2 separate regions of the Homo sapiens genome follow, and region 1 is linked to region 2. Evidence: fine-mapped expression QTL. Tissue or cell type: esophagus muscle. Region 2 holds a variant in brackets; the other region holds the start of a gene. All regions are shown on one strand. Distances are from middle to middle.

Region 1 (8,085 bases), 80 kb before region 2:
TCATTTTGTGGGGGACTTCCTTGGTGGGGCTTTTCCATGCTTTTCCTCTCCCTGATGGTTACAAAGAGGAGACAGTCAGGATCTGGGAGGAGCTGGAGCCTTCCCCCTGTGCTGTTGAACTCTGGGAGGGGCAGCCAGAGGGGCTGAGAGTGCACCATCCTGAAAAGAGAGGGTCTTTAAGAGATAAGATTTAGGCTAGGGAAATTCACTAGAAAGAGACAGGTGGCCCTGGGTTTTTTTTCCTGCCATCCAAAGGGAACCAGTCTTACCCAAAGGCTTAAGGGGTCACCTTAGCCCAGTCTCAGGACACTCTTCTCCAATCAGATCGCTGCTTCTAGTTGCACTGCTCCTGGATTCTGTTCTTGGGGAACAGAAGGTGGCAGGACAGGCCCCACAATCTGCAATTCCAGCTCCCTCCAGAGGAGACAGTCCCAGCGTTTGCAAGAGAGCAGCTTGTGGCCTCCCTTAGGCAAGTTTAAAAGCCAGATGTCCTTTTTCCCAGAATGCGGAGTGGTGTGTACTATTCATCAGCTTGGGCTGCCACAGCACCATGCCAGACTGGATGGCTTAAACATCAGGAATTTATTTTCTGCCAGTTCTGGAGGCTGGAAAGTCCAGATCAAGGTGTTAAGACTTGGTTTCTGGTGAGGCCTCTCTCCTTGGCTTGCAGGTGGCACCTTCTCACTATGTCCTCACATGGCCTTTTCTCTGTGGAGAGGGACAGAGAGCATGAGCAGGCTCTGGTGTCTCCTCCTCTTCTTATAAAGACACTAATATCACCATATTAGGGCTTAAACCTATGACCTCATTTAACCTTAACCCCTTAAAGGTCCCATCTCCAAAAACAGTCACATAGCAGGCTACTGCTTCAACATATGCATTTGGGGGAGGGGACACCATTCAGTTCTTAACAGGGTGGTCACCGCAAACATGGAAAGTCAGAGCCTTCTCCCCTTCAGAATTCCCGCCCCCACCCAGGGATGGGGAGGAGGAGCAGAGAGGTATGGGAAGCAGACACGGAGAGTGGCAGGTACCATGCTGGGGTGGCTCAGGAGTGCTTCGGAGGACATATGGAACTGGCAGGGCTCAGTGCAGGGAGGCGGAGGCCCTGGGAGAGCCGTGTCCTGAGAAGGGCCTGGGCTACAACCCTGGGCAAGTTACTTCACCTCTGAGCCTCCGATGCTCTGTGAAATGGAAGGAATGTGCTTGCCTGTCAGGTGCAGGGAGAATTCAGTGAGATTGTGTGCCTAGCACAGTGCCTGACTCCCAGTAGGTGCTCAGCAAATGCTCCCATCCATCTGGGAGTATAGACTTAGGGTTTATCTATTTTTTTTTTTTTTTGGCTCTCTGGACTTTAAAACTCAGCATCTTCTGAACCAGAGGCATTTCTGATTAGCCCTTCCCTACCTATTTTCCTAGTATCACTCTTTAATCAGCTTGGGGAGGTGGCAGCATTTCATGGCCTCCGTAGTAACTCACAATGCTTCCTGGGGTATTTAAATTCTACTCTCTCATCAGCACTGAGCACCTACTTTGGGCCCTTTCCCGTGCTAGCCATTTGGGGGAAATATAGGTGAAGAGTGGCTGGGGTTTGAACCTTTAGGATTTCACAGCCATGCTGGATGGGATAAAACCAGCTCACATGGAGAATCAGAGAATGGGACAGTGCCACAAAACAGTCTACTGAGGCACAAGTTCTGAGTGCCTGGGAAGTGGTAGAGAGACCCCAGAGAGGGCTGCTGCAGTCTGGAACAGCTTCCTAGCAAGCTGTACCAAACAGGGCCTTGAAGGATGAGAAAGATCTGGCTGAGATGATACCCGACCCTCTAGGGAAATTCTTAAAGTAACTTCTAGGAAATGTCATTGCTCCTTAAAAAAAAAAAAAAAAAAAAAAAAGCAGGTTCTAATTCAAATTCCGCTGCACTACTGAAGTAGTGCAGGACTTATCAGAACCTTTAAAATGCTAATGGCAATTTCAAATACTCAGGGACAGGGCATAGGATGAAGTGTTCCTTGACTTTTATGGCCGTAGAATCTTTTTCTCATGGAACATCGTTTAGAACTGTGGGAGATGCTAGGCTGGGGTTTCTATGGGAAAAGTACAGCAGTGATAGAAGATGGCATAATTAGGGTACACTTAGGTGCTTTGTAGCATTGGCTGAAAAGGAAGCAGACCGGGTGGGCGTGGGGGAGTCTCAACTTGGTTCCAGGAGCCAGGCCAGCTTGATGCGTTTTTTTTTTTTCTAATGGTGGGAGGGCAGGCCAATAGTTGGAGAAACTAGAGGCCTGACAGTCGGTGATGGAAGAGATGTCTACTAAGCACGGTTGTCAGATCTTTTGCGGAGAGATGCGGGTGTGCGTGTGTCTGTCAGAGTGTAACAGGATCCAGCCCTCTGGGAAGGGGCTGACCAGAACCAGGCAGGGGGTTTCTGTCTAGGACAAGTAGGGTCCATTTTCAGGGGAGCTGAAATATTTGCAGGGGGTGCTCTGAGACCCACAGCCAATAAATAGGGAAGCAACATGCTTTTGGGCAGGGTCCATGTGGTTAGGGTTGATTTTGATGGGGCTGGGGGGCTTAGAGTTAGACCCCCTGCCCTGGTCAGGCCCCACTCCCTGGCTGGTGGGGGCGGGAGGCCTCTGAAGCTGCAGCTGGAGGGGCCGGGGCAGTGTTGCATGGTGTGATTAACCTACTAACCCAGGGCTCAGCCGGGACGCTGTGGCGTGTGACGAGGTGCCTGGCCTTCTGCCAACCAACTAACCCACTAACCAGGCCCGAGCATGCCCTACTAACCACCCCCCCGCAGCCAGATCCTACTAACTGTGCAGCTCATGGGCCTTTCAAGGGGCTGGGATATGGGGGCAGCCAAGGCTCCAGAAGGCTCTGCCTATGGGCTGGGATCTTTGTGCAGACCCACGTTCCAGGACAGAGAATGCAAATAAGACTCACCAACTCTGCCACTTCCTGTTGAGTGAGTTTGAGTAAGTCACCTCACTTCTCTCAACCTCAGTTTCCTCAGTGGTAGAATGCGAGTTCTGATACCTTACAGGTTGCAGTGAGGATTCCCGTCAATATAAGGGTCTCAGCACATGGCAGACACCTAAAAAAAAAAAAAGTATGAGGATGGAGGAAGGCCCCTCAAACCTGGTTGAACACGTCTGCTGCCTAGGCCCTGGCCTCTCTGGGTGTTCTGCACACAGATCCTTCTGCCTGGGGCAAGACACTTGGCTTTGAATCCATGTCACTTCCCCACATTCTTCCTCCGTCTCAGCTTTCTTTTCTGTAGGCAGCTCTTTTGTTCGATTACTAACCCGTCTAACCCCTGGGGTGCCTCAACTGCACCCCGATCATCCCTTAACAAACTAACGGACCTGCGTGCGTTCTTCCTTTTCTCTTAGCGACTCCTGTGTGTGTCTGCTGAGGTGCCCTGTCCGCTGGTGCTGTGCTCTGACTTACTAACCCAGCCCCTACTAACCCTGTTTTCTCTTCTTACTAACCCCAGCCCTGCCGAGCTCTGGGCTCCCCCCGGGGGCTGGTCCCCCTCCTTTTGGCAAGCAGATGACCTGGGGCTACTGGCCCTGTAGACAGATGTCCCACTTTGCTGCCCCATATTGGCTGTAAGATCAGAGTCCACTGGGCCAGGTCTAAGGCAGGGGATGGCCCTATTAACAAGACTCAGAGGAGGAAGAGGTGGTCCTGTGGATGTGGGAGGCTGGACTCTGAGTATGACATCTCTCCTATGTGCAGAAGTCTGGTTGCCACTGGGAGTAGGTGGGACCAGGGAAATCTCTGGGACGTGAGTGTGGAGGCCTGTTGGTCTAGACTCTAGACTGTGGAGCTCTGAGCTTTTGTGTCCTCTGGAAGGAAGCTGGGGAAGAATCCTCTCCATTGTTAAGTGACGGGGATAGAAGCTGTCCTGCACAGGAAGTCACGAGGGGGGCGTATCCCACGAGGAAGGCAGGAGGGGGCGTGCCCCTCACCGGAAATTAGCAGAGGGGCGTGTCCCACACCGGAAGTCAGAAAGCGGAGCCTTTCTTACACCGGAAGTCAATGAAGCGGGTCTTTCCTACGCTAAAAACCACTGAGTGGAGTATTTAGTACACAGGAAGTCGGCCAGAGAAACATTTCTCATATTTGAAGGCCGGAAAGAGGGACATTTCTGACACCGGAAGTCAGTGAGAGGACTCTTTCCCACACAGGAAGTCAGCTAGAGAGCCGTCTCCCCTCTCTGGAGCCGAGAGAGGCCGGTTTCCCCCACCGTAAGTAGACGTGGGGCCGTGACCGGAAGTCCTTGGGAAAGATCCGTCCCATTCCCGGAAGCTAGAGGGCGTTAGTTGTCGGGTTGAAAAGGGGTGTGGGGAGGGGAAGCAGCTTTACCCCGGGCTCGGAGTTTGCAGGAGAGAGAAGTGGGGAGCAAGAAGTGAACCTCAGGGGCTCACAGGGTTCCCGCAGATGCTCAGGCCGGCCAGGAATGCATCTCTGGCTCTCTGTTCCCACGGACGTCACTGCCTCAGCCAGCCTCCCCCAGAGCCCGCCAGCCGCTAAGCCGGGGCCACACCTGGGGGTGATTTCATGCCTCACCTCCAGTAGGCACCTTGGTTTCTTTGGGCTAATCTCTGGCTCCCTTGCGCTAACTCTTGCTCTCACCCAGCTAATCCCTGCCTCACCCTGACTGCCCCAGGGGCTGACCACTAACAACCAACCTGGCCCTGTCTGGGGGTTCCAGGCTCCTGGCCTGGCCCTGACCGGTTCTTAATTAACCTTTCCTTCACCTTGACTAACTCCTGCCTTCCTGGTCTGTTCCTTTCAGCAGAAACTAATGGTTTGTGGATTTTTTTCTGACTAACAACAGGTCTAACATTCCTCGTTACTGTTAACAGCTTGGATGTCGGCATGGCTGGGAAGGGGCTAACACAGCTTTGAACTTGGCTAACACAGGTTTGAACTTGGCTAACACAGGTTTGAACTTGACTAACACAGGGAAAAGCATAGCTAACAATTTTGGGCGTGGTGGCTGCTCTGAGTCAGAACAATCAGAAGTCGGTAAAGATGGTAGTTTTCTAAAGGAGGTGCCAGGGCTCTGGTGTGGACCAGGCCTGATGGAGCAGTGGTACCCACCAAGGTGGGGTCAGAAGTATAGCCAGTCTTGCAAGGTTTTGGCCATTGGGCATATCTTCACTCCTCATAGTCTGCATTTGGTTTCAGTTCTTAAAAAAATATAGCCTTATAGCTACAGTAGTTTGCACAAGTAGATGCAGCTCTTATAAACCTTAAAATACCTGTCTGGTGTCTACAGAGCATATGCCATTTTGTATAGAGTCACCCTTCCCCAGGCCAGGGCCTAGAGTCTTCATTTTGGGGACTTTGTGTTTTGGAAGTTCTAGGACATAAAGCTTTAGATCAGAGTATTCAGAAGGGTTATAACTCCGTCAGTCATTTACATGTTAGTAGTATAAATTATCTGAGCTTCCTGTTCTAACTTTTAGCTCTTCTAGCATAAACTCTTCTGTGCAATTTAGCTGCACCGAGGAAACGGGAGTTTTTCTGGAAGGGACTTTTGATCTCTTTAGACTGAGGGAACGTCCTTTGGGAGTAGAGGGGCAGGGAGCATACGCAAGGGATTCCAGGTGCAGGTAAAAGGTGGCACTAGTTCAAGGTTTTGCTGACTCAGTCTGGTAGTCAGAGTCTGCAGGAGAAGACAGTTCAAGGCAGGGCCTGGAGGATTGGATCAGTTTAGGGACAGGTCAAAGGCTGGCTTACAGACCTTAGAGGCAGGTTGCTTGGGTCGTTGAATGCTAGTCTGGTGCTGAGAGCCCTTTTCTCTGGCAACTGTGGACTCAGAGCTAACCAATTGTAGTTGGCAGTGGGGGTGAAGGGTGATCCAGAGGCCTGAGCTGCAGAGGGCACAAGAGAGAAAAGATGTCTTAGAAAGAGCTTTGAGAACATGCCTTGGCTGCTGGCAGGGACCTTGGATGGGGTAGTCTACACCCGGAAGTGCCTGCCTGCCATCCTCTAGTGGCTGCCTTGCTCCATTTCACTCAAAGCAGGAAGCTCACACCTCCTATTCCTGAAACTCCTCTTTGTTTAACTGCAAAGACTTGATGCTGCTAAGGATCTACTATGTGCCAGGCACTGCTCTGGGCGCTGGGACCTGCACCTGGGCTTTTTCGTCATGGTGCTTTTATAGCCTAGTGGGAGAGTTGGTGAAGTAGATAGTGATTCAGTGAGATGGGTGTTATGATTGGTCAGGGGTCTGTGGGAGCACCAAGGAGACAGACAAGATTGATGTGCACCTACTCTGTGCCAGGCGTGTGCCAGGCATTGGGGATGTAGTGGTAGTTAAACACCATTTGGTCTTCAGGAGCTTTAATTCTAGTGTGTTGGGTGCAGGGGGGTGGAATGGGGACAGAGAGACACCTAATCCACCCTGTGGTGGCTTTCTGGAGAGGGAGGCATCTAAGCTGAGCTGTGGCTGGGTGGAGTGTGGGTGGGGATGAGTTCCGGGCAGCGAGAGTGGTGGACACCAGTTTCTGGGGATCAGAGAGGATCCAAAGAGGTTCTGGAAGGTTCATGTGGAATGTAGCAAGAGATAGGAGACATGGACATGGTGCCGGGTCTGGTTGCCAAGAAGTTTAGATTTTATCCTTAGGCCTTGGGGAGCGACGGATATGATCTGAGAAAGGGAGTTAGTGGATTTGAGTTTTAGGCTGGCCATTTGGCTTTTCCAGCCCAGGTGGAACTCAGAGGAGTTTGCAATGGCCTCTGGCCACATTTTAGACAACTGAGCAGAACTTTTTGAAACTAGGAAGACCCTTTGGTCCATCTTTTGATAAACAGAATCCATACATGTCTACCCCAGTTGGAAGTATCTCTGCAATGACTGGAAAGTAAAGAGGACCAAGGTGAAAATAAAGGCTCGGAAGGGGAGCAATCTTGAAAACATGTCATCCCATGGTGGTGGGAAGTCCCTGGAGAAGATCAGGGGAAACACAGTCATAGGCTGCAAGTCTATAAGATAATTCCATTGGGGAGGGAGCCCATTTGTCATGCATGGCTGCAAGGGGCAGATACAAGTGTGGAGTAAGCTTGCAAGAGCTGATCCTGGTCCCAGAGAGGGAAAAATATGCCTTGGTGGGTAATGAACCTTTTGTTCCCAGAGGCAGAAGGATTGGGACTAGGCCAACATAGAGATTGGCGATGGTTGTGAGATTCTAAGAGTGTGTGTGCATCTTGACAATATTAGAGGAGGCTGAGCCCAAGCAGGCACATTCTCTTCGACCCCTCCCTCATTCAGTCTGCTTTGGAGTCTACTGAACATCAAGCTTGCTATGAGCAGGATCTTAGAGCTGAGGAATTGGCCTCCCAATCCGAACAGGTGTTATAATCCTTTCTTAATAGGTTGTGCTGTGGACCCAATGTGAGGGCTGTGCTGGTGTAAATGGTGACATGTTGAGCTGGGGGGATGCTTTCGGGGTGGGGGGACTGGTTCCATTCCATCAAAGGCCCTCTTGAGAGTCTATCCAGGGACCCATTGTTTTACTTTAACAGACCAGAAAAGATGTTTGTTTTCCATGTCATTACCCCCAGGGGATACCGAATGTGTGGGTAGAAATTTCTCTGTAGATTAAAAATCAGATTTTTACATGGATTCAACAAAGGAGCGTCACTTGGATTTTTGTTTTCATCCATGAATGTAGCTGCTTCTGTGTAAAATGCCATTTTGCTATTAAAAATCAATTCACGCTGGAAACATGACTGTGGCCTATGAAGCAGAAGGGACGTGCTGTTTAGGGGAGAGGGGGCAGCCAGTGGCATTCTCAAGGAGCAGGGGTGGGCTCTCTCGGTGAGTCAGCCTTTCCTCAAGAGTGACCCTAGAAGTCAATATAATAGGGTATTTTATTTTTTAATTTTGGTAAAATAATCATAACATAAAACTTCACCACCATAATAATTTCTAAGTGAACATCTTGGTGGTATCATTCACATTGTTGTGCAACCATTATCACCATTGGTATTTATTTTTCTTTTCTTTTTTTTAGAGATGAGGTCTTGCTATGTTGCCCAGGCTGGCTTTGATCTCCTGGTCT
Region 2 (8,084 bases):
AAGACTAGGAGCTCTGTTTTGAGTTCTGTGACCTTGGTTCTGCCACTTGTGATTCTGAGCATTCATTTGCTCATATTTTTCACGAGTTAAAACTCTAAACTCTAATAGCTGCTTATGAAGTTTTAGGGGGGATAACAATGTAAATGGAATACGTTGTTCAGTGCCTGGCATAGAAATCAACGCTGATTTTAGTTTGCAAGGAGCCATGTAAGGTTTTTAAGGAGAGAAGTGAAGGCAAAAGATCTGGGTTTTAGAAAAAAGGATCACAGGGGTGTCCGTGCTAGTCTCCAACTACTGCTCTGAGCAAGCTTGGCCTCCTCCCTCTCCCTGGGCAGCTAGGGGCAGCTGGCCATTCCTTCTCCCCTTGATTTCCCTACCCCAGCCTAGTCTTCTCCACCCTTCCTGGGGAAAGCCAACCCCTTGCCTGGCAGGCCTCCCGGCAACCAAAGGACTTCTTTGAGGGAAGAAGCCACGTTACCCAGAAAAAATCAATAGAATCTTTTTCCAGGCAAATTTCAGAGACTTGTGAGAAGCAGCAGCAGCCTGGGAACTTGTCTCCCATTCAGCGTAGGAACCTCTTGCACAGCATTTGGCTATGAGGCCCTCAAAGTGGACACGTGTTCGTATCTCCTTTTCAGCAACTGCCCCGCTTTCTGGTAACAGCATGCCATCTTCCTTGAAAAGCCACCCTTGGCCATGCCAAGCCCAACAACATGGGTAGAGGTGACTCCTTCTCCTCCCTCACTGGAGGTAGGCATGGCCAGTGAACCAGGTCTGAGCCAATCGAGTACTGCTGCCCTCAGCCTACAGTGATTGATTCAGAGATGAGACTCAAGGAGGGCCAGCCGCAGGATTTTGGTTCAGTCTGATGATGTAACAGTCAGAGTGGACTGTGATATGCTGCAATATAACTAATACCTCCTAAATTCTCAGTTACAGTGACTCAGGTTTTTAAAAATTTTTTTTATTAATTTATTAATTTTATTTTTTATTTCAATTGGTTTTTGGGGAGCAGATGGTGTTTGGTTACATGAATAAGTTTTTAATGGTGATTTCTGAGATTTTGGTGCACCCCTCACCCCAGCAGTCTACATTATACCCAATGTGTAGTCTTTTATCCCTCACCCCCTCCCACCCTTTCCCGTGAGTCCGCAAAATTCATTCTGTCATTTTTATCCCTTTGTGTCCTCAAAGCTAACCTATCACTTGTAAGTGTGGAATGTTTGGTTTCCCATTCCTGAGTTACTTCACTTAGAATAATGGTCTCAAATGCCATCCAGGTTGCTGTGAATGCTTCGATTTTATTCCTGTTTATGGCCGAGTAGTATTCCATGGTGTATATATATCTATATATCACCTTTTCTTTATCCGCTCGTTGATTGATGGTCATTTGGGCTAGTTCCATATTTTTGCAATTGCGAATTGTGCTGCTATAAACATGTGTGGGCAAATATCTTTTTTGTATGATGACTTTCTTTTCCTCTGGCTAGATACCCAGTAGTAGGATTGCTGGATCAAATAGTAGCTCTACTTTTAGTTCTTTAAGGAATCTAGTGGCTCAGGTTTATTTTTTATTTTTTATTTTCTTATTTTTTATTTTTAGATGGAGTCTTGCTCTGCCGCCCAGGCTGGAGTGCAGTGGCACAATCTCAGCTCACTGCAACCTCCACCTTCCGGGTTCAAGCAATTCTCCTGCCTCAGCCTACCGAGTAGCTGGGACTACAGGTGTGCACCACCACGCCTGGCTAATTTTTTTTTTTTTTAATTCTAGTAAAGATGGGGTTTCACCATGTTGGCCAGGTTGGTCTCAAACTCCTGACCTCAGGTGATCCACCTACCTTGGCCTCCCAAAGTGCTGGGATTATAGGCATGAGCCACCGTGCCCAGCCTGGCTCAGGTTTTAATGGCACAGAGCAGCCAAGATTGATTTGCTGCTTGTGCTCTGTGTGCACGGTGTACGCCTCCGGGAAAAACCAAAGGGCAAAAACCAAGTCTTCACCAACCAAGCTGGTGGAGGCTCTGCTCCACATCCTTCTCATCCACAGACTCAGGCTGATGGAGACTCTATCACCTGGAACATCATCAGTTACCACCACAGGGGGGAAGGGAACGTGGAATCAGATGAGTCTGATGTCAAATCCTGACTTTGCTGTTTAAAGCAAGGGACATGCCTGACCTGCTGGGTCCATAGTTACTGCTTAGCTCCGAGAGTATTGATTTTCCCCCTGTCCAATGTCTTCAACCCTATTCATTGTGTATTCAACCAGGATTTTCAAGGCTTGACTCAAACACCTGCCATTCAGAGATTCCTTCTCAAACTCATCTCATGGCCAGCACCTCTCCGTCATCTTAGCACAGAGGGAAGCACAAAGTAGGGGCTGTGCTCAGTGCCCTGTCAGTGTCTAGCAAAGGCCTAAGCACTCAGTAGGTGCTATGCTCAGTGTCACCCAAGGTGCTTTGCAGTGTCAGGCACAATAGTGGATGTTATTCTCTGTACCATCGGCAATGCCCATCCCAGTACCAAGCACATAGTGTGCTCTTTCTTTGCTGTTTCCTTTCCCTGAGTGTTTCTAGCAGTGTGTCTCCAGGAAGTTATGCCCCAAGACACTTCCTCCAGGTCCTCAGCCTCTTGCACGTTGGGACTTGGAATGTGCCACCTGGAGCTGCTATCAGGGTGCAGTCGGCTGAAATAGGTGGGGTGAGGCAAGCAGTCCTTGAAAAGATGGTCCAGGGCTGTCCTTCCCTGTGGGGGTCATCTGGGGTCAGTGAGCAGCGACTTGGCTTATGCATTTCCTCCCAGGGCCCCAGACAAAGAGAGAGTCCTTGGCAATGCGGTTACCTTGACAACTCTTTGTGTTGGAGAGTGAGAGAGAGAGGGGGAGGAAGGCAGCTCAGGGAAGCGGGGTGGCTGCTGGGGGAGGGGGAAGGAGCAGGGAGGAGCTGGAGGAGAAATCCACCTTTAAAAGGGAAGAGAGAAATGACTCCACTTCTGGGCAGAGGGAAGGAAGTGTCTTTATGGTGCAGGATGGAGGCTGGTCTGGGTGGGACATCCTGCCTCTCCTTCTCACCCCATCTAGAAATTCTGCCAGCAGTCTTAACATCCAGAGAACTAGGTCTGAGTCCCAGCCCTTCTTCTAACTTTCTATGTGACTTTGTGCAAGTTACTTTCCCTCCCTGAATCTGAATTTCCTCTTGTATAAAATAGGGATAATAATCCACAAGGTGACTGTGAGCATTAGCTGAGCATTTCAGGTAAATGAATAGTAGTGGGCCCCTAGTGAGTGTTAACTCCCTGGGGGCCATTATTCATTTGGTATTTTCTTAGTGGTAACCTGGGCTTAGTCAAGTGACTCCCTCACCTTGGTCAGTCTCTTTACCCAAAAAGATTGTAGAATTTCTATGGAACTTGCCAGAAGCTAAGTGGGTGCTGCTGGTAGCTATGGTTACTGATGTTCCTGCCAGACTCTTGACATTGGTGGTGGGGGTGGGGGTGTCAACATTACTGGAATTATTAATTCAGAATATTATGGGTCATCAT[T/C]GTGCAGAGGAGACCGATGCTCAGAGAGGGGTGGGGAGTCTGAGGTGTGCTTGAGGAAGAGACCTGGGAGAGGTGACCAGTGTGGGGGACACTATGTTGCCCAGCCCTCTGCATTCTGTGTCCGAGGGCCCCCCAGAGCCCCAGGACTTATCCTGACCCACCCCCCCAACCCTGTGTCATGCAAGCCCAAAAGCCAGCGTCTCTTCCTGGCTGCCCAGGACTGCTGAGATGCAGGAAGGTGGGCATCTGAGGTGTCAGTGGGAGACTGTTGGGGGTAGGGGTGGGAACCCTGGCTTCCTGAGAGCAGGAATGGTGGACATGTGGGACCCTTCTGCTGGGGTGGGGCCGGGTGCAGTTCCTCTCCTGCCTGAGGCACCCCATTCCATCACTTGCTGAGGCCTGAGCCCTTCAGCCACCATCTGGGGGATGCAGTCACAGCGGGAGATCGTGCTCCCCACTGTAAGTTGGCAGCCTGTTTATCAGTCTGGCCTAAGAGGTGCAGCTTTCCGAGTGATTTCCCAGATCCTGATCCACCCCAGAAAATGAGCACATGGAGTCTCGACACTCCCTGGGACCTCACTTAGCTCCCCAGAGCCCTTCTGTCTGTCTGTCCATCTCTCTCCTGCTTTAAGGAGTTGTCCTGTCCCTGGGCAGACAGACTCCCAGGATCTGCTGGGAAAGACCCGTTGGGCTCTGACCCCAAATGGTTTCTGATTGCTGGAGGGATGCACCTCTTAACAGCTATGTTCTATGCATGTTACCCGGGGGCAGGGGCAAACAGGAAGTGCTTCTGGTGTTCAGAGGGCTGGAGGAGTGAAGGGTGGGGGGCTGCCTGGAGGAGGTGGCATGCTTCTGGAACAGATGAAAGAAAACAGTAAGTGTCAGAGCCAGGTCCTTTCAGGACACTGTTAGTGGTGGACAGTGATGATCTCCATTTTACAGATGAGCAAACTGGGGCTCAGAGACATTAGGGACCTGATCCAGGTGGTCCAGAGGCCAAAGAGGCCAGGTTTGAAGCTGGGTCTGTTTGATCCAAACCTGGGGCTTGTTTCGTTGTGCCCTGGTGCAGCCCAAGATGCGCATGTCCAGGCGGAAGATGTAGCCAGGTTAGCGTAACATTGGGGATTCAGGAGGAGCCTGGTTAAGGGGAGTAGAGGGCATGAGAGGAGCGATACTAGCCAGGAGGGGGCAGATGGGAGAAGAGTTTGTATTTAATGCTGCTGGAAATCTGATGATGCCACTCCACTTGCATAAAACCCTCGGTGGCTCCCCAATACCCTTGCAAAAGCCATAAATCCTCACTAGGGCTTCAAGATCCACCTTGGCCCTGCTTCCCTCAGCAGCCTCATCTCTCCCTGTGCTGGCACATGCTCACTTCATCCCCTGCAGGTCCTCAGTCTCACTCTGGGACCTTTGCCTACCAACCCCTTCTCTCTGGAGTGTTCTGCCCCACTCCCCTGGATGACTCACCCCCCACTCATTCTCCTCATCTCCACCTAAATGTCACCTCCTCCAGGAAGACTTCCTTGATCTCCTGAGTGCTCGCAGCCCCCTCGGCTTTCCTGTCACTCCGATCTAATTATTATATCTTTAGTGTCTGTTCCATACCCCCTGCCTGCCCCCACCTTAGTCTGTGAGCCCCATGAAGGGCAAAAACCAAGTCTGTTTATCACTGGATCCTTAGTGCCAAGAATGAATGGTGCCGGCACATAGCAGATACCCAACTGAAATTTATTGAATAAATGCATGAATAAAGAATGAATGAGGTAAGAAACCAGTGAAATTTTAGGTAGGAAGAGTAAATTGACAGAAATTGGCTGGTCGTGGTGCAGGATCAGGGCAAAAGGAATACTGATTCAGACAGAATGTCACCCCACTGTGCCTCAAGCCCCCAAAGTGCCCCCGATTTCATCCCACTTCCTCTGTCCTTTGCGTGGAGGTGGGGAGGGGACTCAGCCGGGGCCCTGAAGACATCCCTGCCTTACTCCTCCCTCCCTTTCCCCCAGCCTCCACCTGTGGACTGGAACTCCAGGTACCTTAGAGGCACTCCTCAGCCCTGCAGCTTGCCAGGGGCACTGATTTCTGGAGAAAATCTTAATGGAAATCTCTCCAGCTATTTTTCTCTCTATGAGGAATTAGCAACCACAAAGTGCTGTTTTGCAAATGGTGGCCCTAAGAAGCTGCTTTCTCAGGGCTTCGGTGATCACCAGGAAGACCATCAGTTATTGAGCACCTGCTGTGTGCATTTTCCAGGAAGACCATCAGTTATTGAGCACCTGCTGTGTGCATTTTCCATGAACAGTTTCTGTTCTTTACCACCATCTTGTGTGGTTGGAAATTTCATTCTCTCCACTTTAGGAATGGAGGGAATTGGAACTCAGAGAGAAGAGATTTGCTGAGGTCATTCACTGGAGAAGGTTGGAAACCGTGTTCATGTCAAGGTCTGTCTCTGAAGTCCTTGAGTAACTTCAGGGTGGGCACCGGATCCAGCTGCTGTGGTTCAGGTGCGATTCCTCCACATACATCTACATCATCTTGGGCAAAGGCTCCAGCTTGCTGTGCCTTAGCTTCCTTATCTGTACAGTGGGCACAATAATAGTAACCACTTCCCTGCATCATTGTGAAAAGTTAATAGTTGAGAAAATATTTAAAGTATTTGGCATGACGTCGTATGTTCTCACTCATAAGTGGGAGCTAAGCTATGAGGATGCAGAAGCATAAGGATGACACCGTGGAGTTTGGAGACTCAGCGGGAAAGGGTGGGAGGGAGGTGAGGGATAAAAGACTACAAATTGGGCCGGGTGCAGTGGCTCATGCCTGTAATCCCAGCACTTTGGGAGGCCGAGGCAGGTGGATCACGAGGTCAAGAGATTGAGACCATCTGGCTAAGATGGTGAAACCCCGTCTCTACTAAACATACAAAAATTAGCTGGGGGTGGTGGTGCACACCTGCAGTCCCAGGTACTTGGGAGGCTGAGGCAGGAGAATCACTTGAACCCGGGACGCGGATGTTGTAGTGAGCCGAGATGGTGCCACTGCACTCCAGCCTGGCGACAGTGAGACTCTGTCTCAAAAAAAAAAAAAAAAAAGACTACAAATTGGGTGCAGTGTATACTGCTTGGGTGATGGGTGCATCAAAATCTCACAGCTCACCACTAAAGAACTTACTCATGTTACCAAACACCACCTGTTCCCCAATAACCTATGGAAATAAAAAGTTTTAAATAATTAAATGTTTGGCACAGCGCATTAGACACAGAGCTCAGTCAGGTTAGCAGTTTGCATTAAAGTAAACCAATTTTGTTAGGTGCCTACTAGATGCTGGGGCTATAGCAGGGGAACAGGGCAGAGCCCACCCTCATGGTCTTACCTTCTGGCATTGCCACGCCACATGATATAAGGTATTCTTCTCTGAGCCTTGAGCCATGTCTACATTCACCCATTCCACAAATGTTAGTTGAATGTCTCGTATGTGCCAGGCAGGCCAGGTAAGGAGTAATACGCTGCCTCTCCCTGCAGGTAGAAGACAGGTAGAGGCAGGGGTCTGAGATGAAATAGATGAGAGCTCCAAGGAAATGTGTGTTGGGATTACGATTTGGGAAGAAGAGCGTCAGAGAGAACCTTCAGGAGTCATTAGAGAGGGGAGGGTCATCCAGGAGCAGGACACAGAGCATACAAAGGCCTGGAGTCACATTAAACTTAGTGGCTATTGGACTCCTTTTCTTTCCTAAACTCTGCAAATAGGTGTGATCAGGGACATGGCAACTTTAACCCTGACCGGCTTTATATTCACTACCTGTATCCTCTCACTTAATCTGCACAACAGTCCTGTAGTTATTGTTGTAAACGTGTAGGGATAGAGTCTTGCTTCTCTTATTTTACAGAAGCAGAGAGGTGGAATGCTGTGTCCAAAGGCACCCAGTTATCGGGTCGCCAGGTTTGCAAACACAAGCGCAAAAACACAGCATTCCCAGTTAAAAGTGAATTTCAGATGAATAATGAGTGATTTTTTTTAAAAAAGATAAATCTATCCCCTAGAGATCTTTGATATACTAAAAAATTATTTGCTACCCAGTTTTTGGTAACCTCACCCCATTTCCTTTCGTTTCTTTTCTTTCTTTCTTTTTTTCTTTAAGATGAAGTCTGGCTGTGTCGCCCAGGCTAGAGTGCAGTGGCATAATCTCGGCTCACTGGAACCTCCGCCTCCCGGGTTCAAGCGATTCTCCTGCCTCAGCCTCCCAAGTAGCTGGGATTGCAGGCGCCCGCCACCAAGCCCGGCTAATTTTTGTATTTTAATAGAGATGAGATTTCACCATGCTGGCCAGGCTGGTCTCGAACTCCTGACCTCAGGTGTGATTCGTCCGCCTTGGCCTCCCAAATTGTTGAGATTACAAGGCGCGAGCCACCGCGCCTGGCCCTCACCCCGTTTCTGAACCTCATTTAGCCTGTTTTTTTTTTTTCCTTGAAAATAAAGGTGGTTGTAATTATGATCTGGATTTCTTGAGGGCCTACGACGCACCAGGCTCTGTGCTAAGTGTTATACACA

What was found. PIP is the estimated chance that this variant, and not a neighbour inherited with it, causes the effect.
Region 1: it holds the start of MIATNB, and the variant in region 2 is fine-mapped to the expression of MIATNB in esophagus muscle (GTEx, PIP 0.93).

Annotation. Positions count from the first base shown.
Region 1 is chr22:26,668,731-26,676,815 of GRCh38, forward strand. MIATNB (MIAT neighbor) reads left to right here and starts at 4,113. Exons shown (of 6, transcript NR_110543.1): 1 at 4,113-4,257. MIAT (myocardial infarction associated transcript) reads left to right here. Exons shown (of 5, transcript NR_033320.3): 5 at 1-7,748. RefSeq lists an enhancer at 1-429.
Region 2 is chr22:26,748,620-26,756,703 of GRCh38, forward strand. The region is part of intron 2 of MIATNB (MIAT neighbor); the gene reads left to right. Among named protein-coding and RNA genes, the nearest start is that of MIATNB, 80 kb to the left of the region's middle. RefSeq lists enhancers at 2,395-3,392, 3,393-4,391, 4,392-5,389. The variant T/C (reference allele first, on the strand shown) is at 3,539.